Homo sapiens: one gene and its partner. The protein of the gene in region 2 interacts with the protein of the main gene of each other region in a pairwise test. Each region holds a gene or a part of one and is shown on either strand. Other genes may lie near its edges.

Evidence for each region. Proteins that work in one complex are often made in the same cells at the same time.
Region 1: the proteins of THAP2 (region 2) and VANGL1 interact in a two-hybrid assay, tested with the Homo sapiens proteins (one large-scale study listed by BioGRID and IntAct).

The regions. Positions count from the first base shown.
Region 1 is NC_000001.11:115,696,346-115,698,721, forward strand, and holds the end of VANGL1 (vang-like protein 1), read left to right. Parts: 3' UTR 1-1,876; downstream 1,877-2,376.
Region 2 is NC_000012.12:71,674,301-71,677,722, forward strand, and holds part of THAP2 (THAP domain-containing protein 2), read left to right. Parts: coding exon 1-98; intron 99-2,388; coding exon 2,389-2,808; 3' UTR 2,809-3,422.

The sequences.
Region 1 (2,376 bases), on a different chromosome or scaffold from region 2:
TTCTCAGCAAGCAGTTTGCATCCCACCGTCTTTCTCACACTTGCCCCCAAGACTTTTGACAGAGCAGACGTAAAACAGGACTCAGAAAACCATTTTTCTCTGTTCCCATATGTAGTAAGTTTTGATTCAGTTGTGCATAAACCATAGTTTTCTGCCCTGCTGTTTGCTTTCAATGGAAGACAGTAAAGGGAAGATGGTGCTCACATCTCTCCATGTGACATCTCATTAGGAATTAAGATGCGATGGATTAGAAATGTAAAACTTCAGAATAAAATTAAATTTCAGGGCTCTATAAGTCCCGTTTTCCCAGGTCCTGTTCCGTTTCTACGTAGATAACCCAATTTGTTTTGTCTATGAAATAAGCCTCTTTAGTGGGTTGTTTTAGTCTCTCCAACAAAAGAGCAGATTCCTAAAGCCAGGTGCAGCACTGTGAAAAGTTTCTTTCAATATGGCACCAAGACTCTACCATTTATGTCTCTCTCAGCTTACAAACATCAGCGTTTTGTCCTTGTCATAGTGGAAGAAAGACACTTACTTTAAGCTTTGGGGACAAAGGTGACAAACCCCAGGCTTTTATCTTAAAAGTGTCTTTGGCACTTCTTTTGGCACTGAAATGGTATTTGGGAAGCATTATTTGAATGTACAGTTGTTTGGTTTTGTATGTGCTTATCTTTATCTGAGCTTTCACTTGTAGACATGGCCTTTTGTTGTGAAGTTGCTCATCATTTAGGAGTGTTTAATTCTAAAAAGCCTTCAGCCTAAGAAAGCTTCATCTGTGGGGACCAGAGACTTGTTGCTCAGGGAGTTAGTGATGGGACTTGGGCATCTGATCTGCAGGTGACAAGTTTAGTTCAACTGAAGTTGTAGGGAATTTAGACAGTTGCACATCATTGCCGTTCTAGGGGCCTTGTAGAAAGATGAAACAGTTGTTTTTCATTTACCAGCACCTCTCAGTTATAGAGGTAATGGAACATTCGCTTACTTTTCATCATCATTCTTTAAAAAGGGAACATACAAAAATCTAAACTATGGCAATAATTTATTTTTATAATAGTTTACGGTAGGCTTTAATTAAATGGCAAACTCCTCTGGGACCCCTAAGTTATGGCGTGATTAGCCAAATTTGATTTCCAACAGTCATTTATGGCCATAACTATTGCATAGAGTGCAGGATGCCAGCAAAGATGAGGGTGGGGGCAGATACTGGCTCAGTGATTTAACTCACATTATAGATGACCCCTTCCTCAACAGAAATGCTACTGAGAGAACCAGAGAGGCCTGGGCCAGGCAGGTCTTATTTGAGAGGAGATTATTTGATAATTGCTTTGGTTAGAAGGACTTTACATTTCCTGATTTCAAGTCCAGCACCAATTTAGAAAGTTCAGAGATGAAACCACCTGTCTTTACCTGACAGAGTCATAACGGTTTGTGTAAAAATGTGGTCAGGGACCTTTTTTGTTCTTTCTGATTAGTTAATACTGTACATTGTAACCAGGAGGGGCAGTTTTGCCAACCAGCCTCTGCTCATGGTCACCATATGTGTATGACAAGGCCTGAGTGAGTTCCTGCATAAACTGGGTAGTGGGCTCTTTTGACACATTTGCAAGCATGTAAATGAATGAATGACACTACCAGCAACCATCTGTACAGGTCCATTTACTTACATTCATAAGGTTTATGCTATGAAACTTCTTCTCATTGTGATGTCAGTAACAGAGTTAGTGTCTCTGATGGAATAGTGTACCTGTCACCCAAGTTATTTTGTTCCTTTTTGGGTCCTCCAGTATAATCCCCCCCTCATCCCAATTAACTGTAAAATGTTTTACACATCACATTTTTTATACTGTAAACTTGGAAAATAAACTGAAATATCAAATTGTGTCTTGTTTCTTTTCTTCATGTGATTATTTCAATCTAAAAAGTTGCTTACTTTTTCAGGGACATTTTTCACTCTCGCATAATTTTGAGACCTTCAGAATTTCAAGACAACCTGTCATATTTCTATAAAAACCAAGACAATTGTGATGGATTGGGAAAGTAGAATTACCATTGTAACAAAAACTACTAGTTGTCAATCATTTTACAGTGAAGAAAATGTTTTGAATAGATAACTAAAAATGAAATCCTCAGGCTCTAAAACATGGAGATGAAACAGATCTTTTGAGTAAACCAGCAAGTGGAAAGGTATTTGAGTCAAATAAGAAGACAGAAAAGTAACAGACTTTGGGTTGATGTGGGAGGTGAATATTGGATTATTTTCCTGAGTGGCTTGGGAATTCAAGTTAAATTATCAACTGATTTTAGATAGGTCTATTTAAAGGAAATTTGATTATTTGCAAAGAAATATGAAGCCTGTTTTCCGCTAACCTCAGTGGT
Region 2 (3,422 bases):
TTGAAGCCTCCTGTTTTGACCTAACAGGACAAACTCGACGACTTAAAATGGATGCTGTTCCAACCATTTTTGATTTTTGTACCCATATAAAGTCTATGGTAGGTAATGTTACTCTCCTTTTGTTAAAACCATTTTTAGAACTCATTCCTTTTTGTTTATGCAGTTATTAACTGAAATTCATTTATAGTGATATGCCTCAAAAAAGTTGCAGACCTTCCTCTTGTACAGTAAAGGTACAGGCTAGAATCAGAGTTTGGGTCTCCTGACTCCAATATTCTTTCCCCAATCCAAATTGTTTTACTATATTGGAATTTTACATTATTACCCATTATTATTAATAATTGCACCATTGGTAAAACTGAAAAATCATATGAGTAATGAAACCTCCAGCATCACTGTGCTCTGATTTTAAAATGACATACAAATAACATGTGCAAAGTACTTTAAGAGCACACAGCCAGAATTAAACCAAAGAATGTAAGTTCAGAGGGAGGCAGGCATGACAGAAATCTTCAGAGAGCTTGGGCATTCAGGGTGGGCTTTTGAAGCCTTGGGAGTTTAAAATAGAGGAAAGGGAACTTGGCTTTGCACAGAATAATTACAGTTGCATAATGAGAACAAAAACGAGTGGGTTGAGGCGTGAGTAGGAAATGTTAGCAAGTGATATTTAAAGGAAAGAATGAAGAAAAAATGAAGCAAAAAAAAGTAAATTAAAAAAAACGAAAGAATAAAGGTATAAGATGAATGAATTAAAACAATGTTTTATCTAGTTAGGGAAGATCTGACCAGAGAGGAAAACCTAGCTGGGAAAGACAGGGTCACCAAGAGTAAGAAAGGGTAAAATGAACACAAATAGTTTAGCTTTGAAAGGGAGGACAAACATGTTTTCCTCTGAGGAAAAACTACTGTTTCTCTTGTTTGTAACTGTTAAACTTTTAAATGTATATGAGTTATTATCTGAATGGAGACGAGGTTGTGGTAAGCTAATTACCACTGATGTTAGAAAAGCTCCAGGAGGACAAGAACTTAGTCTTTTTCACACGTGAATCCTCAGCACCTCAAACAGTGCCTGGGACATAGTATATACTCAAATACTTACTGAATTTGAAATACACCTTATTTTTGACATTTTGATAATTTATTTATTTAATAAATACAACTAAACTTTCCATTATGCCAGAATCTAAGCTCAGTGCTAGAGATACAAAGATCAAAAAAGAGTTCCTGTCAATTCCCTAGGCAGAGGGACTAACTGTAGGTTTCATGAGGATAGGAACCACATCATCTTATTTGTTCAGTGTTGTGTCCCCAGGAATGCATAGTATGTGTTTCAATAAATGTTTAATGAATTAAAGACACAGACTTATGAGGATATGATATAATCTGGAAACTCCCAGTGGCTTAGTATTGCTGGAGTATAAATCAAGATGGTAAATTGCAGAATGGGGTGAGATCCTAAATTGTATAGTATGCCATCTAAAGATTTATTTTTCCTTTAGATAATAGATAGGCAAAGAATAATTTGGCCAGAATGGAAAAGTCAAATATTCTAGAAAAATTATTCTTATGGCAGAATGTGGATTAATGAGGATCAAAATGAAGTGGAGAGATCAATAAAGAATAATATAGTCAGAACAGATATGATACGGGCCCAGTGTAAGTAGTGACATTAAGAATGACAGTGTTCAGCCTTATTGTGGAACAGAGAAAGGAAAAAAAAGAATGACGGAGAGGAGAGGATTCATGGTAGGAATATTTAGTGGGTAGAATTAATAGGACTTGATGACCATTTGAATGAAAGAGATAAAAGCAAAAAAAGTCTCCTGATTTTGGCAAATGTTCCTAGCCAGATTTTAAATCCTTGAAGATATAACCATCAAAAATTAATAGGTAAATCTGTTTAGAAGCTTGGTACTTAAGAATACATTTCTACAGATCCTTCAGTTTTCATTAAATAGGACCCTGGGTCTAAAATATTTATCAAATTGAGAAAAGGGTATTTAATTAAAAGGGGATCAAATTAATATCATAAATAATATCTACATATATTGTAAATTGACCTTAGTAAATTGCAAAGGATCTTTAAAGTCTCTATAGAGTCATAGTCAATAATTTGGAAGAAACCTTGGACGTCCATTGTCTATTTCCAAATCAGTGTTTGAATCTCTCTGGATATGGGACAAAAAGAAATAGGTGACTAGAGTTAATTCAACCAGTTAAAAAACTTAATCTTGGATTACATGAGATGGCTGCTGCTGTTTCCTATTAAAGTTTTAAAATTGACTTTTAAAAGAGCAGTTTAAATACTGTTATCCAAAACTGGACACTATGTGCTTATTTGTGATATTTCATAATTTATGTTCAACCCTCTAATTTTATTCGGCTCAGAAACTCAAGTCAAGGAATCTTTTGAAGAAAAACAACAGTTGTTCTCCAGCTGGACCATCTAATTTAAAATCAAACATTAGTAGTCAGCAAGTACTACTTGAACACAGCTATGCCTTTAGGAATCCTATGGAGGCAAAAAAGAGGATCATTAAACTGGAAAAAGAAATAGCAAGCTTAAGAAGAAAAATGAAAACTTGCCTACAAAAGGAACGCAGAGCAACTCGAAGATGGATCAAAGCCACGTGTTTGGTAAAGAATTTAGAAGCAAATAGTGTATTACCTAAAGGTACATCAGAACACATGTTACCAACTGCCTTAAGCAGTCTTCCTTTGGAAGATTTTAAGATCCTTGAACAAGATCAACAAGATAAAACACTGCTAAGTCTAAATCTAAAACAGACCAAGAGTACCTTCATTTAAATTTAGCTTGCACAGAGCTTGATGCCTATCCTTCATTCTTTTCAGAAGTAAAGATAATTATGGCACTTATGCCAAAATTCATTATTTAATAAAGTTTTACTTGAAGTAACATTACTGAATTTGTGAAGACTTGATTACAAAAGAATAAAAAACTTCATATGGAAATTTTATTTGAAAATGAGTGGAAGTGCCTTACATTAGAATTACGGACTTAAAAATTTTGCTAATAAATTGTGTGTTTGAAAGGTGTTTTTTGTTTTTGTCTTTTTAAACTACTGTTAAAAGAACAGCTTATGATAAGTAATATGTTTAACTTAGAGAAGAATTTTTTCCTGTACCAAAGTTGGCATATTGCATTCTAAATAAGATGCTAAATAAGAGTTAACCAACATTCAACATGACCTTAAAACTGCTGGGTTTTGTATTAATTAAATTATAATTGGCACTGTGATTTGAAAAATTTATAGAAAAAAAGGTACAGGGCAAGTTTTTAAATTAAAACTTTCTATATTTTGTTTTACCAGTAAAAGTGAGCTTATCATGGCCTCTCTCATAAGAATGATTTTAAAATAGGTTGTAAAATATTTTGAAAATATTTGAATGTGAAGTACCAT